Linked DNA regions of Homo sapiens: all the other regions are linked to region 3. Evidence: fine-mapped expression QTL. A gene starts in region 3. Each other region holds a variant in brackets. All regions are shown on one strand. Distances are between the middles of the regions.

Region 1 (4,237 bases), 23 kb before region 3:
GGCTCACTGCAACCTCCGCCCCCACCGGGTTCAAGTGATTCTCTTGCCTCAGCTTCCCAAGTAGCTGGGGTTACAGGTGCCCGCCACTATGCCCGGCTAATTTTTTGTGTTTTTAGTAGAGATGGGGTTTTACCATGTTGGCCAGGCTGGTCTCGAACTCCAGACCTCAGGTGATCCATCCACCTCGGCCCCCCAAAGTGCTGGGATTACAGGTGTGAGCCACCGCGCCCTGCCATATGCTTAGTTTTTAAGATAAAGTTTTGATACCAGAAAGTAGGAAGGCCATAAACTAAGGAAAAAAGAAGTCTTTCTCACACAAGCCAGATGCAATGTTATTACTCTAAAAGGATATTATCATAACGGTCTCCTTCTGCTATAAACTACTGATCCACTGGCCCACTGGACACTTCCCTACTGCTGCTCCCCGCTGCCTGCCTATCCCTGGAGTGCTACACAGGGCAAGTGCATCATAAATACTGGATCAATGACAGGAGGAAGATGACAGGCAACAGCATGGGCTTGAAAGGTCACAGTGAGGGAGATTTCCCAAGCCTCCCTCCAGCGCCAGCTCTCTGGCTATGCCAGGGTTACCTTCACCATGGCTGCCTCGATGGAGCAGTCGGGAAAGCCAGGTTGGTCCAGCATCCCTGCTGTGAGGTAGGTCATACTCTCCATGACGTAAGCCTTCTGAGCCATCAGTGCAAATTTCTCCTGGAGTGTTCAGAAAAAACACAAGAAACAATTTGCATGTGCTGAGAGCCAAATCTGTGAAACAGGAGAGAAAGTAATTAAGTCAGAAGCCTCAATGCCCAAGAGAAGCAAGCCCAGTGACCCGTGTCAAATAAAGCCTTAACTAGTCTTCTTCCCAAATCACCACAGAAGTCACCAGTACAGAGACATCAAAAGAACACACCGTTCATGTCACACAGTGAAATGCACAAATACAGTACTCAACCATTGGTACCTGAATCAATCCAAATTCACTGAGCCTCTTGTTAAACTGTTTCCTTGTGCAGGCGTACTCAGCAGTCATTTCTGAGGAAGAGCAGAGTTATTAGAATGAACTGGAATATTTCTGTGGTTCAAACATGATTTCCTATGGCCATCATCCTTACCCTTCCCACAGGTGGGCACTGTGAGAAGCGTGTCTGCTGAGGTCAAATACCCCAGAAGCTGGCACCCCCACTTGCCAGCACCCGTGGGTCAGAGGAGAACCACCCCTCCTCATGGCACCCACACACAGAGTTTGGCATCAGATACAGACTTGAATCCTGGCAATGGTTCTTACAGGCTGTGCCTCAGGCCGAGTGCGACACCTCCCTGAACACCACCCCCACCTCAGAGTCGCTGTGAAGATGCAACCAGGTGGAAGGGGGAGGGCGCCTCGCACAAAGCCAGGCACAGAGGCCCCAGACAGAGGTGGTGCAGGCTCACACCCCGTGCAGTGACCAAAGCAGGTGGGGCCGCCTGGCTTGAATACTCAGGCTGGGGCTTCCAGGCGTGTGGCTGTGACAAAGTGCTGAGCTCTAAGGGCCCAAGAGTGACATGGCGCCTCTCCCAGGCAGAAGCACCCCCGCCCCGCCATAGCCATGTCCTCCACAGGCTCTCCCAGGTGTGGTGCACTCAGGAGGTGTAGAGGGCCGAGCCCCACTCAGAGCCCCAGCAGAGGAGCTCCCCAGAGGCCTTGTGCCTGAGTAAGAAGAGCCCTGAGCCTGGAGCCTGACAGCTTTCATTTTGGGTCCAGGAGCACAGTCTGGAACAAATCGCTTGCCCTCTCTGAGTCTCTGTCTTCTCATCTCTAAAATGGAGGGAAGCCAAAACAGGCCCAGAGCCTGGCACCAAAGAGGAGCTTCATAAAGCACTTAGGGGTGTGCTGCCCCGGGTACCCCCATTTCCCCGCAAATGCTTCCACCACAACCAGGATGGTTACAGGGCTGTTCTAAGTTCACTGGCAAAGGAAAATGGAGGTTTGGGGTATTCTGACAGAATAGAACAAAGGTAAGATCCAGGGGCCCAGGGACCTGGGTTCCAAACCCGATCCTACTCCCCACCCACCATGCAGAGTCACCCAGGAGGCACGGACCTTGGGAACCAGAGGCCGTGTATCCTGGAAGCCTGGTTCTTGGTGTGTGCTCACCAAGCAGCTCTGCTCCTACTGGTCAGTGGCAACCTCTCACTCCAGACAGACAGCCCATTCCCCAATCCCCATCCCCACCCCAGACAGAAAGCCTGTCCCCCAGTCAGCATCACCCGGGTGGAGGTGAAACAGAGGAATGCGGAAGACAACAAACCTCAGGGGCAGGCTGAGGAGACCCTCTGGTCTCCACAAAAGCCCAGGGACTGAGCTCAGGCTGGTAGCCTGGTTCAGCACTGGCCTGGAAGGGGCCGGGGGAATGGCAGAGCCTCCAGGGTTGGAGCCGGGGCAGCAGGGGGTGGGGCACAAAGGGCCTTGTCCCTAACTTACCTACCAATCAATCTCTTGAGCAGCCCAGCCACGACGCTGCCCATGCTGAACCGGCCGCTGTTGAGGATGTTCATGGCCACCTGCAGGGAGAACAGGGAGAGCCCAGGGGCCC[T/C]GAAGGAGGCAGAGGGAGGAGGCCGCAACGAAACCAGGCCAGGTGGATCAGCTTGCCTTCCCTCAAGCTGGGAGAAAGCACCATCCTAATGCCTCAGAACAAGGTGGTTCAGTCACTGTTGCAGCTCTACCAACATCCCCACACACAAGACCACTGAACGTTATTCCAAAGGACCATGCCAGAGCTGGGCATGGTGGCTCCCACCTGTAGTACCAGCATTTTGGAAGGCCAAGGCAAGAGGATCGCTTGAGCCCAGGAGTTCAAGACCAACTTGGGCCAAACAGAAATTCTACTTTTAGGCATAAATCAAAATACCTGAAAACGTTATTTCCACATTAAAACTTGACATGAATGTTCATAAGTAGCATTACTGATAGCAGCCAAAAGCGGTAACAACCCCAATGTCCATCAGCTGGTGAATGGATGAACAAAATGTGGTATCTCCACTCAACAGAAGAGAATTCAGCCATAAAAGGAATGAATTACTCATTCATGCTATGAGAGAGATGAACCTTGAAAACATCACGCAATGTGAGAGAAGCCTGTCACCAAAGACTGGATCTTGTATATGACTGCATTTTTATGAAATGTTCCAAACAGGCAAATCCATAGGGACATAAAGTAAAAGAGTAGCAGCCAAGGGATGGGGTAAGGGTCATACTGGATGGTACAACATTTCTTTTTGGGGTGAGGAAATGTTCTGTGTGAGATATTTGAACAACATAGTGAATATACTAAAAACCACTGAAATAATATTTTAAAATGGTGAGTCCTTTGTCATATGAATCATCTCTTGATAAAAATAAGTCTTAGTCCAAAAAGAAAAGAGTAGGGCAGCGATGCAGACCAGGGTTGTGGTACACAGAGCTTGAGATTCACCAGAGCCCACAGGCTGCTTTCTCATACCCACTGCAGAAGGGAATCTTAGCCTCCGCTCGAGGCGAATAGGGCCTCAGAGGTGAAGGGAAATTCCTAATCCTTACCATACACTTCTTCTAGGAGCCAGCCAATTTTCCAGTGTCCATTTTGCCAATTTCCCAACAGATAACCATGCAAAGTCACCTGCCATGCACAGGCTACTCTGCTACGAGCAGGGATAGGGCAAAAGCTGGGGGCGACAAACTGCACTCATGACACTACCTGGTACAAGGGGCTGTGGCTGGCAACTCACCTTAAACCCATCTCCGACCTCTCCAAGGATGTTTTCCACAGGTATCTTGGTGTTTTCAAAATGGACTTCACAAGCTGAAACACATGAAATTTAAGATATCATCTGACAATGCAAACCACTCTGCATCTGACCTGCAAGCAGGCAATTCATCCATCCATCCATCCATCCATCCATCCAATGTTTGGTAGGACAGTATAGAAAGACAAAGTTCCTATCTTTGTGGAGGCTCATACTTTGATTTGGGAGACAAAAGCTATAAACAAAACAATGTAATATTGTGATCAGTGCTATGGATGAAATAAATAGGGCATCACGATAAAGAGAAATGGAGGTTGGCAAGGGGGTGGATAATAATATTTTTATTAAGGACTATGTCAGACTTTTCTAAGGTGACATTTAGCAGAAGTTTAAGAATGAAAAGAACCAGGCATATAAAGAGCCAGAACAAGCAAAGTGAGGGAAAGAACAGCATTTCCTGAAGCCTTAGGGT
Region 2 (4,237 bases), 27 kb after region 3:
ACCACCCAACTAATGGCATTAATCAAATATCAACCTTTGCCAAATAAAGGACTAACTCCTCATGGAGAATTAAATTCTGATGATAATGCTTTCTATTAAACTTTATTTATAAACAGCATCAAAGGGGAGAATTAAGCAGGAAATATAAGAAAAACAAGTAAAGGGAAAACAAGTCCAGTTGGAGCTATGATAACATTATCTGCAAGGCCAGGCAGGGGCCCCAAAGAAATGGATTCCAAGAATAGGGATGAGAAAAACAAGTTCTTATCCGTCTCCCCCTGGAATTCTCTCCCAATGCCATTATTCTTTGTTCTGCGCTTGTAACTATTTTTGTAACTATTTCTGCAAGTTTGCAAGGATTTTATAAGTTCCTGTTTTCCCATCTGTGCAGGATGGCAAAGGTCACAAGACATGCCTGAATTGCAAAACCTGTCACAGTTAACTGCCTTTGTTCTGCTTCTGTAAGCTTGCTTTCCCCACCCTGCAAGTTTTGTGCCACTGGCTAGCCACTCCCCTTCAGTTGCCTGAATAAAAGTTAAGCCTGGCCTTTGTTCATTTATCAGCCTCTGAATATTAACCCACTAGGCCGGTGGCCACCTAAATAAAATCCTCCTGTTTCACCCATTGGTCTCTCCAGTCTCCTGATTCCCGCAACAGTCAGTCCAAGGCTCAGTTTCCCCATCTGCACAAAAGGGCCCCCTCCAGCTCTGATTCCGAGGATCCAGCCTCAGTCTGTGTCTGTGAACAGTGCTGGGTGATGATCCTGTTGACCCCTCATGTGCCTGTGACAAGGAAGGTACCACAGGGACCTAGAGATGCCCATTGAACTAAGAGGACACTCAGGCCAGAGAGGAGTGGCTGCCAGAGGCTGAGCAGTGGGGCAGTGGTTCCAGCTGGGACTGGTCCCGATCTCTTATCTCCAAGTTCTCACCACTGTGCCCATATTCTTGGAAGGAGGAAGTAAGGAAGAGGTGGACTGGGCAGCCTCAGGTGGATCTGAGTCTAGCTGCACCTCAGGCAGCTGAGGGTCCCCAGGCCTCAGTTTCCCATCTCTCCCCAGCAAGGCTGTGAAGCCAGGAGCCCCTGGTGGCTGTCACACAGGTGGGCAGAGGCCCCTCCTCCAAGGTTGCTGCTGTGTCTCTTCCCTGGCCTGGAGTCTGTGTGCCCATGGCAGAGGCCACCACTGGGCAGGGTGATTACCCCGGGCCTCCCTGATACTCACCCCTGCAGATCTGGAACATCAGCCTGGAATGGAGACCTTGTCACGGCCCTCCCTGCTTGCCACCCACAGCAGCTGAACACGCCATTCAGCCGTTCAGAGGTGGAGGCAGAGCCTGCACCTGGGCTCCCGAGGGCTGGGGCTCGGGTGCCCCAAGATGGCTGCCCAAGGGCCCCGACCCCACACCTTGAAGCTCCTCACAGCTCCTCCCCAGCCCACAGAGGGGAAGTCAGAGGGCAATGGCTCAGAAAGTCCCCCACACTCAGGCTCATGTGGGAACACTGAAAAGAGGAGCTCAGGGGGACCCCATCATTGTGGGAGACGCTGAGGCCCCATAAAGCCTCATGCAGAGGAGAGGGCCTGGCTGCAGCCCCACTGTCTGCCTGCCTTCCGGAGCACCAAAACCTCCCCAGGATTTCCTTTCACTTTGAAGGCAAGTGTCTCCCAGGTATGAATACTGAATCTCCCCAACTTAATGCCAATTTGCAACCTGAGAGGGGGATCTTGTGGGCCTTGCTTGAGCTCCCCAAGGGCCCCTCAGAGTCTGTGCCCCCGCCCCGGTGCCACTCCCCTCTGGAAGTGCCGGCCCTGTGAGAAGGCACCTTCTCCAGGTCTGGCTTCCACCATTGAGGAGGCCCTTAAAAATGCCACAGTTCGGCCGGGCG[C/T]GGTGGCTCATGCCTGTAATCCCAGCACTTTGGGAGGCCGAGGCGGGCGGATCACGAGGTCAGGAGATCGAGACCATCCTGGCTAACATGGTGAAACCCCGTCTCTACTAAAAATACAAAAAATTAGCTGGACGAGGTGGCAGGCGCCTGTAGTCCCAGCTGCGCGGGAGGCTGAGGCAGGAGAATGGCGTGAACCCCCGGGGGCAGAGCCTACAGTGAGCCGAGATCGAGCCACTGCACTCCAGCCTGGGCGACAGCGAGACTCCGTCTCAAAAAAAAAAAAAAAAAATGCCACAGTCCTCAAGACCATTGGCCCAGGGAAGCCTGGGTGAGGTGAAGTTGACCCAGCACGAACTCACTGGGACTCAGGTGGCTGTAAAAATAAAATCTATAACTAGGGGCTCCCCCAGCCTTCTGAGTCTACACAGAAAGGTAGACGTCATGAAGGCCCTGAGTGTCCCATCATAATAAAGCCATATCATGTCATTGAAACCTCAGACATCCCATACTGAGCTATGGTGATACTCATAGTGAAGACCTTTTCCACCAAACACTCCAGCCTGGCCACATGGAGAAGGAGGAGGCTCAAGCCATGTTTCTGCAAATACTATCTGCCCTGTAGTACTGCCACCAAAGTCAGCCGCCAGGACCTGGGTGGCAGGACTCCTGCATGAAGAGCACAACATGAAAAGAGCTGACTTTGGCTTCAGCACCACATATTCCCAAGGCCAGAAGCTGAGCGCCTTTGGTGGGACTCCCCTTAAGCTGCCCCAGAACTCTTCCTGGGCCACGAGTATCACAGCCCTGCAGTGGTCGTGTGGGTCTTGGCTCTCCCGTCTACCACATGGGGCCAGGGCCCTGCCATTTGGCAGGCAGAACTTCTCAGCCTCAAAAAAACATACTCAAGGAAAATATGTACTGTCTATATTCCTTCCGAATTGAAATATTTATCAAGAAATTTCTGATCCTTGACCCCAGAGAATGACCCACAGAGGACCAGCTGATGCGGGACCCCTGGGTCAATGCTGGCCAGGGAACCCTTGGGCCACACATAGAGCTGCTCCCCAGTCACCTGGGCCCCCTAACAACCTGACTCTTGGTAGCCGTGACATTCTAGGCACATCAAGGAATCCCCAGTAGGAAAAAATATATATATAATTATTCCATGGCCACCTACCTAATCCTGGGGATCCCACTGACCTTCCCCATCCCCCAAAGTTAAGTCCAACTTTTCTGTCCAACCAAAGGGGAGTCAAGGGCTGGAATGTTTGGTGAAAAAGGTCTTGACTGTGGCCTTTCCCACCCTTACTTCAGAAATCCAGCAACCCAAGGAGGACCAGGGCCAGGGCAGAAGATGCCCAGAGAAGCCACCTTGCCTGCTTGTCCCCTTCTGGGCCTGGAGGTGATGTGACCCAATACCAGCACATCTCCGAGTGTGGCCCTGTGGCCTCCCCCTCCATCCAGAGCACCAGCAGCAGTGGGAGCGGCCCAGGAGTCAACTGCCCCCAGGGAACATCCCAGGACGTCAGTTCTGTCCATGTGGGAGACCCAGGAGGAGTCACCTGTCCCCAGGGAACAGCCCGGGAAGCCAGCACCCTCTCCACTGGGCATCAGATGGTGTGACCTCAGCCTCTCCCTGTGAAGAGAGCCAGGGCTGCCAGGGAGCCACTAGATTTGTCTTCAAAAACATTTTGCTTCCTCCTGGCCCCAAAGACCCACTGTGCATGGAGAAATACAGTGGCTCCAGTAAACCCAGGGGACAGCTGCGGCCCAGACACAAACCAAGCGGAGGGTGGGGGGCAAGCTGCCTTTTCTGCACTTTATTTTATTTATTATGCTTTTGTTGGTTTCTTTTTTTGTTTTTAGAAAATGTCTCTGAGTCATATGTTCATTATTATTATCATTATTATTTTGAGATGGAGTCTCACTCTCTCGCCTAGGCTGGAGTGCAGTGGCGCAATCTCTGCTCACTGCAAGCTCTGCCTCCCGGGTTCACGCCATTCTCCTGCCTCAGCCTCCCAAGTAGCTGGGACTACAGGCACCTGCCACCACGCCCGGCTAATTTTTTGTATTTTCAGTAGAGACGAGGTTTCATCATATTAGCCAGGATGGTCTCAATCTCCTGACCTGGTGATCCGCCCGCCTCGGCCTCCCAAAGTGCTGGGATTACAGGCGTGAGCAATGGCACCTAGCCGTTTATTATTTTTTAATTATTATTTTTAATTGGAAAATTATGCTTGTATTCATTTATGGGATATAATGTGAGGATTAGATAGATGTGTGCACCATGGAATGATCAAATCTTAGCATCTCCATCACCTCAGAAAGGCAAATTCCACATGAAGTTACGGAA
Region 3 (4,000 bases):
TGGCTGTAGATGAAACGAGACCCAGCCTTAGTAAATTCCAACTTGGCTAGTTGGAAACACTGGTCACTGTTTAGCGGTCAAGGAGCTGAATAAGAACCAGCAATGGACACAGAGAAGTATCAGCCAGTGAAGTATTTAGAACATTCAGAGAATGGCGAGAACAGTGATTCAGAAACCAGAGACGAAAGTGCGTCAACAGGGTGGAAGGATGAACGGTGTCAGATGCCAATGATGGGTCAAGTAGGATGAGGTCTGAGAACAGATCACACAATTTGATAACAGAGAGGTCATTACTGACTTCTATGGCCATTAGGGACAAATGCCTGAATGGTAAGGGCTCAAGATCCAGTAGAGAGAACAGTTAATGATGCAGAGAAAGGAAAGAATTACCCTTGAGTAGGTGAGAAGACCTGGAGTCTAATGAGAGGTTGGTTTTGCCAGGAGCAGACAGTTCACAGTAACAGAATGTAGATAATACCGGCACATATGCAGCGGGAGGGGGTAACTGTGCCTGTGAACTTCTCATCCGACTGCATGGATTTTCCCAGTGGAATGGGAAGCAAAGCTGACAGCTGAGAGTAAAGGCAGGGCAGGGCAGGTAGTGCCAGAGGTTTAAAGATGGAAACAGATCTGAAAGATCTGTGTTCTTTCTTCACCATGCTGCTGGATAGCAGGAAGTCCCAGGATAGAGCACCACACTGCCCCAGGTCCTGGGTAAAAGGTTTTCCAATATGTTCAAGACATAGCTCCGCACTTTCTAGCTGGGCAAACTGCTTTTAGTCTGAGTCTTAGCTTCTTCATCTGTAAAGTTGCTTGCTATAAAGGTATCAGCCTGACAACCTCAGAGGAACGTTCCAAAGAGAAGCCAGGGAATAACTTCTGTGATACAGGATCAGCCAACATTCAGCCAAGTTCAAAGTAGGGCACCTCGACGAAATAGCAAGTATACTGTTGGTTTCCTTAGAAGATAAAATGAAATACAAAGGAAAGAGCAAGAAATGTGTTTATTCCTATTTTGTAGATGAATGCACTGAGGCACAGGGAGGTGCAGCCGTCAGCTCCAAGGTCACAAGACTAAGTGTTGAAGCCAGCTCTCTCTTCTGCTGCACAGTACTCTACAGTTTAAGAAGACTCTCCATGCACCGTTTATCTCACTGGGGCTCTACAACACATCTGTGAAGGAGACACAACACTATCTCCATTTTAAGGCTGAAAGAACTGAGTCTTGGCCGGGCGCGGTGGCTCACCCCTGTAATCCCAGCACTGTGGGAGGCCGAGGTGGGCGGATCACCCGAGGTCAGTTCTAGACCAGCTTGGCCAACATGGTGAAACCCCGTCTCTGCTAAAAATACAAAAAAAAAAAAAGCCGGGCAGGCGCCTGTAATCCCAGCTACTCCGGAGGCTGAGGCAGGAGAATCGCTTGAACCCAGGAGGGAGGTTGCAGTGAGCACTCCAGCCTGGGCGACAAGAGCGCGACTCTGTCTCAAAAAAAACAACTGAGTTTCAAAGTCAACGAGCCAAGACCAAACCCAAGTCTTCCAACTCTAAGAAGACAATGAGTGTTTTATAACCAAACTGTTACTATTGGCTGGGTTGTGCCACCCTTGGGAAGCATCTTGGAGCCAGATTTCTGAGGAACCTCAATGGCAGGGAGAGGCGCTGGGCTCACCTGGGGAAGGAAGCCCCAGGGCGCTGGAAGGTGACTGAGGAGGGACATGGTGTAAGCTGTTTAGGAATCAGAGAGGAAGCCCCGCACATTTCCAGACCAGACCAGCTGAGATGAAGGCTGCTTTGTTAATTACCTAGCCTAGAGTTTTCCGAATTCCCCTGACAAAATTTAGCTGGAACACGTCACCACCACATTTCCAAGGGTCCCCCGTCTTGGAAATGTCTCACCCTTTCTCTGGGAAGGTTTTCCTGGAACTCAGGAATCCGGAGTGTTAACACGCCTCGGCCGCAGGGTGTATCTCTCTGGCAGGTTTGGGGAATCTCACAAAGTTCAACACCAGTCTTGCAGCTGAGGGTGAAAAGCGGGAGCCAGACAGCAAGGGTTCGCCCAGGGCTCGCGTTACCTTCTTGATTTTGCCTAGGAAAAGCTCTTTGGCGAAAGCTCGTACAGGCGGGCTGGTGCGCAGTAGCCGCCGGTTCGCGGTAGAGACCACCAGACCCCGGCAGGCACGAGCCGCAGCCGTGGTGCGCAGGAAGAGCCCGCAGCCGCTCATGCTGCCCGATGTTCCCCAGCCTCAGCCTCAGTCTCCCCTTCTTAGCGCCGCAGGGACACACACACGTCTGATGACGTTACTGGCCCGCGACAACGTGCAGTACTCACTGCGCTTGCGCGGTCCCCCGCAGCAGGGGATGGAGAGGCCAGAAGGGCGGGAAGGCTACCACCTGCCGCGCCCAAGGCCTTAGTCACGTGCACCTGGCTGGCCCGCGCCGCCTGATGACGTCACACGCCTACGCTTCCCGCCGGCCCCACTGCGCTTGCGCGGCCAAAGGAGCTGGCCGGAGGAAATTGTAGGCCCTGGGCCGCGGGCATCTCGGCGGGTATAATCTCTGGCCGTCGTGACGGCGGTGACGGACCTGTTTTTCACATACCAGCGGTTGTTTCCATAAATGCCAGCCATGGGAAATCTCCCTGTGTACAGAAACCTAAAGGCCGGCTCAGCTGCCTCCACTTGTCTCTTTTGTCACTTGTGGCCACGAGGCCGTGGTAAAACTTGAGAAAAGCAAAAGAATGAGGGAAATGCGCTGTATTGGGGTCTCTGCAGGGGCACGGTAAGGGTAAGGGTCCATTTTTAACTGGATGGTGGATTCCTGAGATACTGTTTTGTTCCTAGTTGACATGTATGTTACATATATTTTTTGGAAAAGGAAAAGAAAGTGGGTGTTCAGTCACAGAGCGGTCTGGATACAACTGAGTCACCTCTGTCCTGGGAAACACTAACTTAAAAGGCAGGCGGAGGAAGAGAAACTACAGAGAGAGCTGAGAAGAGATGGGAACTATTGGATGGGATGGGACAGGCCAGGCTGTAACCGCCCAAGGTTACAGCCCGCTGACTAGACAGCTGATTTATCAAGACGGAAATTGCAATAGAGAGAGAGTAATTCACGCAGAGCCGGGTGTGTTGGAAAGGGAGTTTTATTAGCCAAATCGGTCTCCCCAAAAACGGATCGGAATTTTTAAGGATAATTTGGCGAGTAGAAGCTCGGGAAGTGGGAGGTGCATGATTGGTCGGGTTGGAGATGGACTGATAGGGGGCCGAAGTGAGTTTTTCTTGCTGTCTTCTGTTCCTGAATGGGATTGCAGAACTAGTTGAGCCAGATTACCAGTCTGGGTGTTGGTAGGTTTTACAACAGTGATGTTATTCCCAGGAACAATTTGGGGGACGTTCAGACTCTTGCAACCAAAGGCTGTATGGCCTCTAAACTGTAATTTCTAATCTTATAGCTAATTTGTTAGTCCTCCAAAGGCCAACTGGTCCCAGGCAAGAAGAGGTTGTTTTTTGTTGTTGTTGTTGTTGTTTTCCCGGGAAAGGGCTATTTTTGTTTTGAAGTTAAACTATAAACTCATTCCTTCCCAAGGTTAGTTCAGCCTACGCTCAGGAATGAACAAGGACAGCTTGGAGGTTAGAAGCAAGATGGAGTTGGTTAGGTCAGATCTCTTTCATTGTCTCGGTTATAATTTTGCAGTGGCGGTTTCAAGGCCAGGCCATAGGGGCCCACGTAGGAGGCAGGGCATGCCTGGCACCTCACAGCCCAACAGTGCTCTGAACGTGGCACATGGGCCCTCTACAGATCTTCAGCCAGCTCCTCCAGGAAGAATGCCACTCTGCTTTTTCACCCAGACCGGTAATCTGGCTCAACAAGTTTTGCAATCCCACCTAGGAACAGAAGACAGCAAGAAAAACTCACTTCAACCCCCTATCATTCCATCTCCAACCCAACCAGTCAGCACTCCCCACTTCCCGAGCTCCTACTCGCCAAATTATCCTTAAAA

The links. PIP is the estimated chance that this variant, and not a neighbour inherited with it, causes the effect.
Region 1: its variant is fine-mapped to the expression of ACAD9 in whole blood (TOPMed, PIP above 0.99). The same link has a PIP of 0.9 or more in blood mononuclear cells.
Region 2: its variant is fine-mapped to the expression of ACAD9 in whole blood (TOPMed, PIP above 0.99). The same link has a PIP of 0.9 or more in spleen, stomach and tibial artery.

Annotation. Positions count from the first base shown.
Region 1 is chr3:128,900,860-128,905,096 of GRCh38, reverse strand. It overlaps ACAD9 (acyl-CoA dehydrogenase family member 9), which reads right to left. Exons shown (of 18, transcript NM_014049.5): 8 at 3,748-3,821; 9 at 2,469-2,544; 10 at 965-1,035; 11 at 592-711. Among named protein-coding and RNA genes, the nearest start is that of ACAD9, 23 kb to the right of the region's middle. RefSeq lists an enhancer at 1,804-3,003. The variant T/C (reference allele first, on the strand shown) is at 2,577.
Region 2 is chr3:128,850,943-128,855,179 of GRCh38, reverse strand. It overlaps the pseudogene MARK2P6. Among named protein-coding and RNA genes, the nearest start is that of MIR12124, 6.3 kb to the right of the region's middle. The variant C/T (reference allele first, on the strand shown) is at 1,885.
Region 3 is chr3:128,877,914-128,881,913 of GRCh38, reverse strand. It overlaps ACAD9 (acyl-CoA dehydrogenase family member 9), which reads right to left and starts at 2,294. Exons shown (of 18, transcript NM_014049.5): 1 at 2,073-2,294. The coding sequence starts at 2,222. It overlaps ACAD9-DT (ACAD9 divergent transcript), which reads left to right and starts at 2,478. Exons shown (of 3, transcript NR_186174.1): 1 at 2,478-2,778. RefSeq lists enhancers at 868-1,719, 2,028-2,107, 1,720-2,572, 2,168-2,717, 2,573-3,424.